Regions from separate parts of the Homo sapiens genome. Here region 1 is linked to region 2. Evidence: fine-mapped expression QTL. Tissue or cell type: fibroblasts. Region 2 holds a variant in brackets; the other region holds the start of a gene. All regions are shown on one strand. Distances are between the middles of the regions.

Evidence for each region. PIP is the estimated chance that this variant, and not a neighbour inherited with it, causes the effect.
Region 1: it holds the start of PDE8B, and the variant in region 2 is fine-mapped to the expression of PDE8B in fibroblasts (GTEx, PIP above 0.99).

The regions. Positions count from the first base shown.
Region 1 is chr5:77,207,620-77,215,619 of GRCh38, forward strand. PDE8B (phosphodiesterase 8B) reads left to right here and starts at 3,061. Exons shown (of 22, transcript NM_003719.5): 1 at 3,061-3,645. The coding sequence starts at 3,307.
Region 2 is chr5:77,428,532-77,436,793 of GRCh38, forward strand. It overlaps WDR41 (WD repeat domain 41), which reads right to left. Exons shown (of 13, transcript NM_018268.4): 12 at 7,730-7,863; 13 at 2,402-4,756. The coding sequence ends at 4,604. Among named protein-coding and RNA genes, the nearest start is that of WDR41, 60 kb to the right of the region's middle. The variant A/C (reference allele first, on the strand shown) is at 4,080.

The DNA of each region.
Region 1 (8,000 bases), 220 kb before region 2:
CTGTCACCTGGGATGCATTGAAGTGGTCAGTGGCAATTGGTTCAGAAATCTCTTCTGTGGGTCAGAACTCAGGCTTCAGAACTAAGCTGTGGAAATGATTTCAGTTAAACCATTTCCCCTCCACTTGCACACTTCTGCAAGTTTCAGCAGCCAGATCTGTTCCAGCAATGGGGGCAGGTTGCACATTCCCACTGAGAACACTTGGTGGAGATTATAAGGACACATTATTTTTTTCTTTCACTAAGCCAGAATTGGCAGTTGAAGATGTGTTTGAGCTACTGTCTGCTCTGGGAATGGGAAGAAAACTGTATACCTAGTGCATTTCCCCTTCTATCTTCTATTCCAACAAAGAAGTTGCAGTCAATGAAAGTCACTGGTCCTAATATGAACTGTTCAGTTAACCCACTAAAGCAGCCTAGTCCTATTCACTAGCTACCTTGAGGTCACCTACTCTTTCAAGGCTTAATTATTCTTATTTTTTAATGTAGAAAGTTCAACCTAAATTTGTTTCTGGGTGACTTCTAGCTTCATGATTCAGCTCCTAATGTTCTCCACCAGAAGATTGGTTGTAATTTCTGTTTCATCACAGTCTTCTTGCCTTTCAAAGCCTCAGTGAGTGACTGGTGCTTTTTTCTGGGTGGTTTCATTGCATTCCTAGAGAAAACTCTGAAAAAGTAGACATGTGTCATGAGAATATGCATGGCTGTAAATTTCAGTATGTGAAGGCTGTCATTGATAGCTCCATGAAAGGTAATGACTGAAATGCTATATGCATTATCACAGGTAAGCTTTAGGAATCATTAAACCCTGACTTGAACGTTACATCAGGGACTAGTATAGAGACTAGTGTTTTTGCAATTTAACTCTGATGTTGTTTTCCCAGGTCCTAAATTGTCCTTTGGAAGTAGAGCAGATGGTTGCTATGAGGCTTAGTTTTAAATGAATGACTGTCCCCATATCTCAGTCTCAGCCATTTAATGTGGTGTTCTTACAGGCATGGATGGGACAAGGAAACATGGATCTCAGCAGCCTGGAAGGGAACTGTGGGTGGAGGCTATGATGCCAGGAAAGGACTTACTCCTCCAGCTACTGGGAGTGCTGCCAGCAGAAAGCCCTTGGCTCAGCTGACATCTCCTAGGGGCAGTGCCTCAGCTGAAGAGAGCCACCTTGCCCAAGGTCGCTGAGGTGGCCTGCATGTAAAGACTGGTCCATGCTGGGGTATAAAGGCCCACCAGAACAACTCAGAACCCAGCCCCAACTCAGAACAACTCTGAAGCATCATCCCACCTTCAGAATCCTCCCTGCAGGGATGCCTGAGGCTTGGTCAATTTCTCCCTCTGCTCAAGCTTGCCTCCCTCCATTCCCTCCCTTTATTTCCTCCCACAAATGTTGACTACAAGAGCACTTCCTAAAAAGCCTCCCTCTGCCTGCTAAACACCATCTCAGAATCTGCTTCTAGGAGGACCCAACCTGTGCAGAAATTTTATGAGCAATTTGCCTGTCCATTAAAAAATACAGCATAGACTTTTTCCAGGTTAGCTGGAGATGGAGTTTTTTTGTATCAAAAAAAGAGAGCTAAACTGAGAAGAGAAGCAAAGGTAGAAGAATAAGGTTAGACTCTCCCTGTATAACTGAATTTGGGATTGGGAATGATATCTTGCTTCTCTATGAAATTTAGAAACTGTCTTTTGAAGTCTTCATCCAGTCACATCCAAGAGTGGTCCAGGAAGAAAAAGGAAAATAAGAATGAAAAAAAAACAAAAAACAAACCTTAAAATTGGATACTTCTTTGTGCCTTGCATTAAGCCTCTATGTTACTGCCCTTGTCCGTATAAGCAACTCTAGATAAAATCCTTTCTTAGACCATCTAATTTATCTCCCCGTGCCATTGTGAAAATCGGGCAGGAATTACTGCGGGAACCAGTGACTGAATGGGCAGTGGTGTCTCGCAGCTGTAACTCAGAGTTTACAAGGGAAGGATGAACAGCAGCCATCCTTCTAAAGGCATTCTTCCTCTCCTCCAGCACAGCTCAGTCTGTGCATGCCTCACCAAGGAGAATGAGGGAAGGCCTTGTTGACTGCCCAGCCCAGAGTGTGAGGAACAGCAGTTGACATGGGCGGCTGGACGGGATAGAAACCAGCATGAACATTTAGTGACACCTAAGGAAGAGGTGAAAATGGGGGAGAAAGCCAAGAACCATCAGACAGCTTCTTTCTGTTCTTGCCTTGGATCTTAGGGGAACGTATGTGTTCAAGGGTGCCTTCCTCCGCAGGGCCTCCCATCCCTTGGCACAAACTTCCAAACGATGAGTAGACATGGAATGGGCTTCTTCTGAAGACTGGGTCACCATCCAACTCAGCCTTCGGAGTAGGCGGTGGGGCTGGGGGAAGAGGACGGAACCATGAGGTCTCTCCATCACTTCCCGGGTGTGTTGAGAGGCAAGCAAATGCGGTGGGTGGGCCTGGGCTGTAGGGCCCCTGCCATTTCGGGAGGGGCCTCCTGGTGTTTAGCTCTGGGATGTGTGAAAATGTGTTGGTGAAAAGCGAGAGGCTTACACAGCCCTTCAGGGGAAGAGGGGCTGGGGCGCTGGGGGCGGCGTCGGGATGAGTGCAGAAGAGACGAGGCCTCTGGACAGCGGAGGAGGAGGGGAGGGCGCCGAGGCGCGGTGCCAGCTGCCGCGCACAGGGGCCCCGCGGCGGAGCCGAGCCGCGGGCACGCTCTGCCCTGTCGGGAGAGCTCCGGGAGCGGCGGGAGGGGCGGAGGGGCGCAGTGGGGCCCGGGCGGCTGCGGCCGCGGAGCCGGGGCACCTGAGGAGGAAGGAGGGTGGGAGCGAGGGAGGGAGGGGACGGGCGCAGACCGAAAGTGGGGAAAGAAGGTGCAGGCAGGCGGGCAGGCGGGCGGGCGCCCTGGCCCAGGGCCGCGGGTGCGGGAGCCCGGCGAGGTCGAGCTGGGCGGCGGCGGGGGCCGCGCCGAGGGAGGAGGGGAAGGCGGAGGCGCGGGGAGCGTGTTTGGGGCGCCGCGGCGGGGAGGGTGGCGGCCGCTGGTGCGCGCGGGGCGCTGTGTATGCGCGCTCCCCCGCTCGGGGAGGAAGATGGCCCAAAAGGGAAAGTTGGGGTGACGCGCGCGGTCCCCGGAGGCTCGGCGGGGGGCACCGCGGCCAGCCCGACGGAGCGGCGGACACACAGGCCGGGGGGCGCGCAGTCCGGGCGCCGCCGCGGCCGCCCCCTCACTGCAGGTGGCAGCGGGTGCGCTGGGTCCCGGCGGCCGCGGGCGCGGGCGGGCGCGCGGGGGAGCCCGGCCGAGGGATGGGCTGCGCCCCCAGCATCCATGTCTCGCAGAGCGGCGTGATCTACTGCCGGGACTCGGACGAGTCCAGCTCGCCCCGCCAGACCACCAGCGTGTCGCAGGGCCCGGCGGCACCCCTGCCCGGCCTCTTCGTCCAGACCGACGCCGCCGACGCCATCCCCCCGAGCCGCGCGTCGGGACCCCCCAGCGTAGCCCGCGTCCGCAGGGCCCGCACCGAGCTGGGCAGCGGTAGCAGCGCGGGTTCCGCAGCCCCCGCCGCGACCACCAGCAGGGGCCGGAGGCGCCACTGCTGCAGCAGCGCCGAGGCCGAGACTCAGACCTGCTACACCAGCGTGAAGGTAAATGCCCCGCGCTGGCACACGCCGTGGGGGCCGTCCGCCCCGTCGGCGGGGCTCGCACGGGTAGGGGGCTCCGGCGGAGTTGGGTGACCGTGAGGCGGTTGGTTTGGAGAGGTTGTCACTAAGGAGGAGTTTACTTTTCATTTGTGGAGATGATGGGAGCCCAGGAAATGTGGTCAGAAAAAGGCCCCTGGAGGGGTCCTGGAAGCGTCCTTAGCTGGTCCTGGGGGACTGGGCGGGGAAGGGAGCGCAGAAGGAAGCAGGTGGGCTGGCCTGTTCCTCCTTGAGGGCAGGAAGGCTGTGGCTTGGTTTATGCAGGAAGAGGGGTGGGGACCATTGAGAGCATTCGGTGGCCAGTCCTGTTGAATGAAATCTGAGCACTGAGCTGGATTTGCGTGCCTTGTAGGTGACTGGTGCAGTTGCAGCACCAGGATAGATAGTGCCCCATATTCCGATTTTTACCTGGGATTACCAGCCAGGCTGGAGTCTCAGCACAGGAACCGAGCGTAGGGATTTGTGAATGAATGAGTGTTCGTGTTTTAAGAGATGTGGGAACGGAGCAGAGTGGAACCTGTTGTTTGTCACTGTAACGTTTCTCTGGGTTGGCTGCATCCTAGACAGAATTGAGAGAACCGGGCCATGAGTTCGGAGTGTCAGCAGAGCCACCGTGAGGGGACGTGGTTTCCAGTGCAGTACAGCTGTCTGAGGATGATTCTGCACATACAACTGATCTTCCCAGAGAGTGGGATTTTGAGGAAGTGGAAAAAATTGTTTAGATGGTTAAAGCAGTCGCTAAATATTTATTTCTTAAAGACAGAAGAAAAATAATTATTTAAATAGTGTCCTCCCGTATGTTCTCAAAGTACCGTTAAATCCAAGAGGCTTTTCATTGTGTAAATCTGGGCACTGGGTCTTTTTTCCTTTCAGCAAACAAGATAACAATGGCATATCCTATTGTACAGAGAGAAAAAAATACTCCTAATGTCAGATAGAATCACAGCCTTTACCTGGTCAATAGGTTACCAAGAACCATTCCATGGATTATTTGTCAAAGACACATTTGTATTTTTAATAGTTAAAAACTTGGTCTTCATTGGATGAAGGCAGCCCACAGTGGAGGAGTGAGGAGAAGGATAACATGTTTTGGCTTCAATCTGGAAGTCCAAAAGTTTTTTAATGAACCTATTTTTTTTTTAACAGCATCTGATTGTTTAACATGAAGCTTGACTGATGTTTGCTTGTGGTTGCAGTGTTTCTCTGGCAGTAATCATAATCACCATTATAGTAAAAACATCGTTTATTGAGCACCTACTATGTGCCAGGAGTAAGCTTTCTCTCCTAACTATTGAATGTTAACAGTGTGATCTTAGCATAGCATGTCTGAAGACTAGAGTCTAGGATTTATGACAGTACAAACCTACCAGTTGCCCATTCGTTACAGAGGCATGTGCTGAACGCTATACTTTGCTTTTGTCAAGCTCTCTCTCTCTCCCCCTCCCTGTTCACACAAAGTTAGCTTTAGGAGCAATTTTCAGGGATGAAAATGTTAAATTTGGTGAAAATATTAAGTTGGGATATTATCAGTAAAGACCATCCTTTTGCCTGACGGTTGAAGACCTGAAGCAGTAGTTCAAAATTGTGACAGCTCATGAACTTTGTGATACTTTTTTTGGTTGCTCCAGAGAAATTGTGAATTTTTGTTTTCTAGAATATCTATAATCTCAGTTTAGTACTTGGCAACTCTAGCTACTCCATGTTTGTTCAGTAGAAGAAAGAATACTGAATGAACCCATTCTGTACATTTTTAATACTTCCCTCAAGAGGCTGCTTAGAGACCAAATGAAGTAAAAACTGAAGGGACAATGAGCCCCAATTATTAGCAGCTTGTATAAACTTGTATTAATCTCATTGCTACTTGGCTTAAGTATTAAAAGGCTTGACCTGGGTAGGAGTTTAACTCATTTTGCTTTATCAAGAAGATTCCCAAATAAGAGCTTAATTCACTCTAACCCATTACTGGGAATGTTGGAAATGAAACCCCTGGTTCATTGACTTAACACTACTTTGCATTGTGTGGATCTCAGAAAGTATATATTTGAAGTGAAATTTGAGACCAGAGTTATTTATGCAAATCTTACAGAATTATTATCACAGAACTGCCCTAATATATTTAATAGTATCCTTTTAGGCCTGTGACTCGGTGTTGTATTGTCTTTTCTCAATCGTAAAGTTCACATGTTCTGTGCCCTTTTGTTGCTGAGATAATTTTATAAAAACTTTACATTCATTTTTTTGTAGACTAAGCATTCTTTTTTTGCCGTAAGAGTTTGAGATAGTTGCTAGGCACGTGGTGGTGCCCCACCCCTTTCCAAAGCACACAGGTGGAAAAATAAAATCTTTACCATTTGGTCCTGTTTACAGTGGTGGAAGGTTGTAATAGTTTCCACCCCCTCCCCCTGGCCATTTTACATCAATTATGAAGTGTATCCTCATTATCTACTTGGCCTCTGGTATTCCCCAGAGTGCAAAAATGTGTGCTTGATCTCTCTCTCTCTCTTTTCTAGCAATAATTCATCTCATTAAGCTTTTAGAATGATGAGGCATTATGATGTCAAACATGATGTCAACAGGAACCTTCCTGAATACCTAATTTGCAAAAAAAAAAGGGTTATAAGCATTAATAATTCATATGCAGTACAATGATATCACATGGGTTTCCATTTCTGGTAAGAAGTTAGATTTGTCTCCCAATTGCTGTGAAAATGCAACTTCCTAGCAATTTCTTTCCTTTTTGCTTGCCTTTTCAAAAATAGTACTCCAACAGGAGAATCCTGCAGGATGTTCACTCTTGATATTGTGCCAGTTTTGTAATTCTTGTTCAGAAATCCTCAGAGGAGATGGTTGAACCTCTCTCTGGGAAGAACCAGGGATTCTTACAAGTTTTCTCATACCAGCTGTTCCTACTTGGGAGCATCTGGGACTAGACAGCCAGTTGTAGAGAAGAATCGTTATTGACAATATCGTCAACTTGCTATGACCTCTGTGTAGGTTCACTCTTTTGTGGATCAGACACAGGATGTTGTTAGTTTCCAGATGGCAGCATCACCAGCTCCCCGTTTTCCCTCCATTCATACAGAATGTGCTCATTTGTTCATTCAGTATTTGTGGCCAGACTGTGTTGTAGGTGCTAGCGATTCAGGAAATATCCATGAAATTTGGTAAGCAAAGCCTAATGAGGAGGATAAATCTCCTGTAAAATGGTGTGCCTAAGCCAGTTATTAGTGACTGCTATGTTTTCTGTTCCATAGCACTCCAGAATTTGTGAGGATAATCCTGAGTTGACTATATATAAAAGGAAAATAAATAGATATTCCACTGACCTTATGGTAAATAATAATGAGATTTTATTTGGGGGAGGAGTAGAGCTATTTTGGAAAAAAGTCATTTTTGTTTTCTAAGTCAGTGTTTTGGAGTCAAACTTTACGCAAGAATCACCTAGAGAGCTTGTTAAAATATAGATTGCTGGACTCCACTCCCAGAGATTCTGATTTAGTAGGTCTTGGGTGGGGCCTGAGAATTTGAATTTCTAACAAGCTTCCAGGAGATGCTAGTGTTGCTGATCTGGGGACCCCATTTTGAGAACCACTGCTTTTTACAGTGGTGAATTAAATTATCTGTCTGTTGACCAGGCGAATGAGGTGGGGCCACCTCTAGCAGAGTGCATAGTACCACACTGTCTTTATCTGGGGTACTGGTCATAGCACTGCTTTCATCTTAGTTCACTTCTGTATGGGAAACCTGCTATCCCTGTACAGGAAGTCAAAACGCTGAGCCTCCGAGATTGGCTAAAAAGTCTGTAAGTGAGGAGTGTTGGATCATGTAACCAACTCTGGTTTCTTGAGGTTAAGTTTTCCCCAGGATCCTTTTGGGTTTGTACAGGTCCTAATGTCTTGCTTTGCCACCACAACAGAAGTCTAAAGCAAGGCTGGATGTTACATGATACAGGCACATATTCTCTTCTCAGCTCTTGGAATTCTTGCTAGGCCTTTCACCATCATTTTTCATTTTAAAATGAAGTATAAAGTTTAATAAGCTCAAATGAGTCCTGCAAGCTGATTTCATAAAATCCAAGTTTGCCTTCTGCCATTGTATATATGATTACAATTTAGTCCCTTCTTTTCCCAGCACATTAATTAGAATGAATGAGCACATTTTCCTTATTTTCATGACTTTCTTCAGTAGTTCCATGAATTTTTAAGGACTATCAGGTAATTCTTCCTTTTGAAGGAAAGTAAGTCCTCAAGCCAGGATGTAACATAGTATAAGCTGCCAGCTGTTCAGAGATGATATAGTTT
Region 2 (8,262 bases):
ATGTGCAAATGTTTAAAAATGCTTTAAGACAGCTAGGTACTAAAGCGTCAACAATTTCTGCTCTTTACCAGTGTAATCTACGGTATAATCTTCTGGCCTGCGAACTAGTCTATTCTTCCACATAGTCAACTTGTTAGAAATACAGGCTTTCAGATGATATGTGTATCAGATAGTTTATATTATATAAACTATTATAACTGCCTCTTACACAGAGTTGTTTACTTAAATGTCATGTGCTGAGGAGGGCCGTATTAGGAAAATGCAACACTCTCTAATAATTTCCGTGACTAGTAAGAGAAGGAAGCCAGTTATAAAACACTGCTGGACCAGAATGACCCTATAATTTCCTAAGATCATTCTTTATTTCTAATTTAAGATTTTTAAATTTACTTGCCCTCCATGTCAGGACTGGTTAGCATTCTGGGCAAAAAAAAAACAAGCCTGTCAGTTCACTCAGAACCTACTCAGCTTTAGAGAGAGAAACAGAAGGGATGATCTTGTGCCCTTGCGCTATGTGAATATAGCCAGAGACTGAGGTAATAAATATATTTTAAAATAAAAATGACAAGGGATTTGTACACTGTAACACTATGTAGTGTTACTTCTGCTGTTGCAAGTATCTTAACTGTTGAAAGCTAAACTCAGGAAATGGAGAAAATGTACATAATATACATTGACCCATTATTTTATTCTAAATTGAAAGTCCAACTTTTAGCAGCAGTCTACCTGCAACTACTGAACACCATCAGGTTTGAGTCCCTACCAGAATCTCCCATCATACTGTTATCCCCCATCTCTGTGACCTTAGGGCATGCATGAAAACAAAAGCAATCTAGTCCCTAGGGTTGGAGACTGCCCTCTAGACAGTTTTTCATGGCAGAAAATTAGAATACAAGTATACCTCATTTTATTGCATTCTGCTTCATTGTGCTTCAAAGATACTGCCTTTTCTACAAATTGAGGGCTTGTGGCCACCCTGCATAGAGCAAGTCTATCGGGGCATTTTCCCAGCATGGGCTCACTTTGTGTAAGTGTCACATTTTGGTAACTCTTAGAGTATTTCAAATGTTTTTATTCTTGTATCTGTCATGGTGGTCTGTGATCAGTGATCTTTGTTACTACTGTAATTGTTTTAGGGTACTGCAAACCATGCCCGTATAAGACAGTGAACTTAATTGATAAATCTTGTGTATATTCTAACTGTTCCACCAACTAGCGGTTTCCAGTCTCTCCCTCTTCTTAGACCTCCCTATTCCCTGAGACACAACAATATCGAAATTAAGCCAATTAATAACCTACAGTAGCCTGTAAATGTGCAAGTAAAAGAGTCACATGTCTCTCACTTTAAATCAAAAGCTACAGATAATAAAGCTTAGTGAAGAAGGCATGTTGAAAGCCCAGGCAGGTGAAAGCCATGCCTCTTACACCAGTTAGCCAAGTTATGCAAAGGAAGAGTTCTTGAAAGTGTTAACTCCAGTGAACATGCAAACAAGAAAGTGAAACAGCCTTACTGCTGAGATGGAGAAAGTCTGAGTGGTCTATATAGATTAAACAAGCCACAACATTCCCTTAAGCCAAAGCCTAATTAATTCTTCAATTCTTTCTTCGAAGACTGAGAGGTGAGGATGCTACAGAAGAAAAGCTGGAAGCAAGCAGAGGTTGGTTCATGAAACTATCCCCATTAACGTCAGAGTGCAAGGGACAACAACAGCAGGAAGTTGTCCAGATGATCTAGCTAAGATCACTGAAGGCGACTACACTAAACAACTGAGTTTGTGAAGATGAAATGGTCTTCTATTAGAAGAGATGTCATCTAGGACTTCATAGCTGGGGAGAAGAAGTTCAATGCCAGCGAGTGTAGTTGGTGCCTTTAAGTTGAAGTCAGAGTTTATTTACCAGTCCAAAAATCTTAAGGCCCTTAAGAATTATGTTAAATCTACTCTGCCTATGCTCTAGAAGTGGAATAACAAAGCCTAGATGACAGCATATCTGTTTATAGCATGGTTTATTGAATATTTAAGCCTATGGTTGAGACCTGCTCAAATTTCTTTCCAAATATTACTGCCCATTACAATGTTACCTGGTCACCTAAGAGTTCTGATGGAGATGTACAAGGAGGTTCATGTTGTCTTCGTGCCAGCTACCACAACATCTATGCTGCAGTCCATGGGTCAAGGAGTCACTTTGACTTTTAAGTCTTATTTATTTAAGAAATACATTTAATAAGGCTGTAGCTGCCCTAACTAGTGATTCCTCTGAAGAGTCTGGGCAAAGTCAATTGAAAACCTTCTGGGAAGCATTTAGCATTCTAGATGCCACTAAGAACATTCTGATTCATGGGAGGCGGTCAAAATTCCAGCATTAAAAGGAGTCTGGAAGAAGTGGAGCCTGAAGATGTGAATGAATTGCTGTAATCTCATGATCAAACTTTAATAGATGAGAAGTTGCTTAAGAATGTGTATAGAAAGTGGTTTCTGGAGACAGTCATTTCCACAGTGAAGATGCTGTAAACATAGTTGAAATGACAACAAAGGATTTAGAATATTCTATAAACTTAGTTCATAAAGGAGCATCAGGATTTGAGATGACAGACTCTAAATTTTGAAAGAAGTTCTACTGTGGGTAAAATGCTATTAAATAGTATTACATGTTACAGAGATCTCATTTGTGAAAGGAAGTCAATTGATTTGGAAAACTTCATCGCTATCTTATTTTAAGGAACTGCCACAGCCACCCCAACCTTCAGTAACCACCTTAGTCAACAGCCAGCAGTATCAAGACCCTCCACCAGCAAAAAGATTATGACTCGCTGAAGGCTCAGATGATTGTTAGCATTTTTTAGCAATAAAGTATTCTTAAGGTATGTACATTTTTTAGAAATTTAAGACTGTAGTATAAACACAAGTTTTATAGGCACTGGGAAACCAAAAACTAGATGTGACTCACTCTATTTGCAATAGTTGCTTTTTTGATGTGGTCTGAAACCTAACCTGTAGTATCTCTGAGGTACGCCTGTATAATGACCAGAAGGAATTTGCTGTGGTACTTACGGTACCATTTGCTTCCAAAATTCATGTGATTTCTACCACTCCATTTGAATAGATTACTATCACAAAATACTAGCCTAGAACAGGCTAGGAAGTAAAACAGTTAAGTCTATGGCTCCCTTGTGTCATACAACTTCAGAAAACAACTTTACAAATGTATGGGCCAATGCAGAATTTCTAAAGGAAAAAGCACGTGAATAATGGGAGAAAGTCTTCTGTAATTGAGGTAGCTTAAGTTTTAATATTTCTCCATAGAACTTTTCATGACTCAATGTTGTTTGGATTTAAAGTAGTCATATAAGCCTTTTCTCATTCAGTCTTCAGTTCCTGTTTTTAGAGCTGCTTGGTGATACTGGGCACTACAGATTTAATTGCAAGGCCTTACTGCACTGGGCCTCAGTTTCCTCATTTGTAACATTATGCCACTGGTCTACTCAGATGACCTTAACTCTTCCAGTCTTTGTAGGTAGTTGTGGAAGCAACTGTCAAAGCTAAAACTAGTAAAAGAACTTATGGAGATTCCCTTTAGGGTATATTTGTAGTATATTTGTATAATGAACAAATAAATCTGTAGGTTTTCTGTAAGAAGGGTCAGTCTGCTAACATCTGTCACGTTGCCCTTTCTTCATCAGTAGTTTAAGAATTTCAATCTTTAATGTGTAGACTACTTTCTAATATTTTCATTTTTTAGCACCAAAAGGAGAAAACATATTGTTACAAGGCTGGTTATAGTGTCTCAATGGACACTGCAAAGAACTACATAAAAGAAGTCTGTCTCAAGCAGTTCGTATTTGAGTCAGTGGTCAGATGGGGCAGTTGCGCTCAGCTGCAGTCCCTGACTCCGGAAACACTGTGCCTCTCAAATGATCTAGAGCTCATCCTTGGCGTACATGAGGGGCAGTTGTTGTTCTAGTACCCATTTAGCCCATGGCTCTTCAAGCCAATTCACACTGGGAAAAACACACCCTCACAAGATGCCTATCCATTTGAGTTCATACAGGTTTTAGTAGCTAGAACTAAAAAACATTTTTA[A/C]AATTATCTAAACAAATTGGTACCAAAGAAAACTTGCCATACTTAAACAGTATATATGTTCCCTTTTTTGGCTGAGAGATTCAAGTTTGTGCTATATAGAACACTAACAGTTACTAAAGACTAGGAAAATTTGCAGGAGAAAGGCTATTTTTAAACTTCACAATAATTCTAAAGGAAGCCAAATAATAAAACTTCTAATAAATGCCATAACTTAACTATTACCTCTATTTGTACCTTTCACAAGGATCTAGGTTCAAAATAAGCTCAAAACACAGCACTCACCACTTCAACAGCAGCTCAAAGTCAAATGGAAAAACTTGTGGTATATTCTTTGGAGGATATACTAGGACCTGAGAAGCAACATGTTCCTGGTTGGTAGGTCCACAAAAAATTTAAACATGTAGAATTTTATGGACTGACAAAAAAAATTACCAATTTAAGTGATCAATATATTAATGGTTTTCAGAGTAGTACCCGATATTTGATGTTCAAGGTTCATGCATGTGTATTTTTAATTCCTTAAACTAGACAGCAAGGTATAAGTCACCATTCTCCTCTAATTTTTGAAATAATCTTAAACTGCGCAATCCAGATTCTCGCTCTCCATTTTTCCACAAAATAATGAGATGATCAGCGGAGCACGTCACTAGTCCATGATCTTCAAAGTATAGAAACATCTGTAAAGAAAATTAAAACTGATTATAGGGACCCCGAAAAGCAGAGAAGTGTCTAATACCACATTAACACATGTGCGTGTGAGATATGTGCCTTAAAGACTCCTTTGGATCTGGGTGTAGAACTTCATTTCATTTTTCAGTATTGGTAAGTCACATACAAATAATATCTAATATTTTAATCAGAATTTTGTTAATATTGTTCAACTACAGAATAGCTATTTTTGTAAAGTACATGAATTCTCATAGTTCTTCCAGATTTTTTCATCATCTGATTTTTCAAGTATTGGTTTTACTTAACCATTACTTATACTGTATAATGGCTATGGAAAAAATGTCTGAATTCTAAATTTCCCAAGATAAACACTGGCTTCAGCTCTCTATAAAAGTAGATATACTCAATCCATAGGTGTTAAGTGTCAGCACTACGTTTATGGTCCCTACCCTCAAGAAGATTCTGAAAAGCAAATCATAATTGAAACAATAAAGGTACCAATGAGAGATTATGTAATCAGGTACTAAATAATGCAGTATAGACTATGACATGTCACAGAAATTCAGAAAAAGCTTCAAAGGGAGAAAATGCCCCAAGTAAGGGGAAGGGGCTTGCCCAGTGAAGGAATAGGCTGGAAGCTAAGAATAGGAAAACAGAGTGTTGACAAAAGGCAGCATGAATACTATGGGGTGAAGAGTTGTATCAGAAAAGTGAATCAATGAAAAGGATGAGGTCCTCGAAGGAAAGGGTGAAATAAAAGAGAAACAGGGCCGGGCGTGGTGGCTCACACCTGTAATCTCAGCACTTCGGGAGGCTGAGGTGGGTGGACTGCCTGAGGTCAGGAGTTTAAGGCCAGCCTGGCCAAACATGGTGAAACCCTGTCTATACTAAAAATTAGCTGGGTATCTGTAATCCCAGCTACTCGGGAGGCCGAGGAAAGAGAATCGCTTGAACCCAGGAGGTAGAGGTTGCAGTGAGTGGAGATTGCGCCATTGTACTCCAACCTGGGCAACAAGAGCAAAACTCCCTCTCGGGAAAAAAAACAAGAGTTTTCTCTGAAATGACATATACATTTCTGAAGACCACAGGATAAGACTCAGCTGAGGATGCAGGAGTGAAGGGAGGAAACATGGGAGCAGAATTCCTTCGGAAACTGGAAAACACAAAATTCAGTACACAGGTAGAGGGGTTGCGCCAGTAGAGCAAGGATGAAAATAGAAATGAGGACCAGCCTGGCCAACATGGTGACACCCCATCTCTACTAAAAGTACAAAAATTAGCTGGGCGTGGTGGCGGGCACCTGTAATCCCAGCTACTTGGGAGACTGAGGCAGGAGAATTGCTTAAACCTGGGAGGCGGAGAGTACAGTGACCCAAGACTGCACTCCAGCCTGGGCAACAGAGTGAGATGCTGTCTCAAAGAAAAAAAAAGAAATGAGGAAATTCAGGTGACACTGCAAAGATAGCCTAGATTTTATCAACGAAGCTGGAGATGCTTTTTAAAAGTGTTCAGGTCTCAACACTTTCACTCAGGAAAATTCCTAAGAAGCTGACACTGTTTTATAGAATGAGAAATGTGCCACATTCAAACACATTTTGAATGTCTTTTACATGGGGTTTTCCCTACCATCTAAAAACCTTTTTAATGAGTTCCTACTATTTAAAAAATAAAGTCCAAACTCCTCAGCCTTACATTCAAGGACATCCATAATCTGACCCCAAACCACGTTCCCAGGCTTTATCCCCTACTAGTGTCTGTTCACAGGAACCCAGCGCTCCGGCCTAGCCAAGGTGCTCCTTGCCACCACGTAAATGCTATCTTTGCCCTTCTGCCTACCACAGTCCATGCTCACCTCCCAACCATAAACACAAAGTTAAAAACTGAGCTACTTGTTAGAGGAAAGCAAAGATAACTATGACACTGTACCCCAACATCAAGGAGCTTATGATGACAAGGCTATATACTCATCCTACTAAACTTCAAGGTTCAGCTCAAGTGTCAAGTCCTATATCCTCTAACCATTTACAAGATTCAGCAAGAAATGTTTCTTCTGAGTCACTGCTGCTTACTTGGGTCCATCAAATGCAGCCTAGGGTAACAGCCTATTAGGTCTATACCCCTTCTCTCCACTCAAGGGTAAGATCCATGAGGGCAAGGACTGTTTTCATCTCTCTCTGTAAACTCCAGCAGCCAGTGTTTAGCACAGTGCCTGAAATACAGGAAATGCTCACTAACAAGGATGCTGCCGCTGCTCCTCCTAAGCATGAATGCCCTTTCAAATGAAAAGAAATTTTTTGTTCTTTGGCTATGAAACAGGGAAGAACAATTTAAGAAATTCCTTAGGGCCCTGATTACACTGTTATTAGTTCTCACAGCTAATCTGTTACCTCAACTGATCTTATTCCTTCACTACAGGCAATGATGCCTGCAGCAAATATTAATGTATCTGGATTTCTACATGTTAAAAGCTTACGCATTTCATAATTTTCAACTAAAACTTTCATATTTGCACAATGAAAATCAAGGCATAGGTTTCATTAAAGCTAACAAACTATTATCCTTCAAAGGCAGGAGAAACAGGACTCTGTTCATGAATTTGATAAAGGCCCCTGGAATTCGATTCTGTTAAGGCTTTAACTGTATACACATATAACCACAACCCTTCATGCATCCTCTGTTTACTGTTGTCATATAGTCAACATTATTCACACTGCCCTTACTGTCAGCTATCTCCAGCTCCTAAATAATGGTGATTAAGACCATTCTTAAAAGCAATGCATTCCTTGTTTCCTCAAATCATATATCCGGAAAGGGAGACCCTAACTGCACATACTATAGCCTATCCCATTCCATGTTCAGATCTGACAAACACCTACAGATATAAGAAAAAGTATATGCCTTTATGAGATCAACTGAAAGAAAAGAGCAATGAAATGCAAAAGCAGGAGTTGCTTGGACATTCTGTGGCTAAACAGCAATACCTCCACAGATGATGAGTGTCCAATCAAATCTCCAATAAGCTCCAGTGAACATGAAGTAGCATTTTCTTGCTGCTTTTTAACAGGTTGGCTGGCTTGTTTGCTGACTCTTCCAAATCCCCACATGTTAAAAAAACCTAGAAAAAGAATCATTTCCAAAATTACTGTGCTCTGTACTTACAATAACATGAGATCAGAAAAACAAAATTTAAATGTGAAGAGGTTCCAGACTTATTTTAGTCAAGGGCTAAGTGGACAGTACCTGAGCACCGTGCTAGGGTTTTGTGAATATGTTATTTCATCTTTCTTAGCTAACCAGGTCTGTTCTTCATCTCTTTTTATTGCCCCTAGTCACCCACTGGTGCAGGTATATTAACAAAAAGACACTTGGAATAAAACAGGACAGAAACAAAGCTTGAATGGCAGTGTCTAACTGTCAAGGGAAAAAAGGGCAAAACTCAGATCAACAAACAAGGCATAGGGGAAAAGCTGTATATGTATGTGCAAAAGCAACACCCCAGGACTTCAGGAAGTCA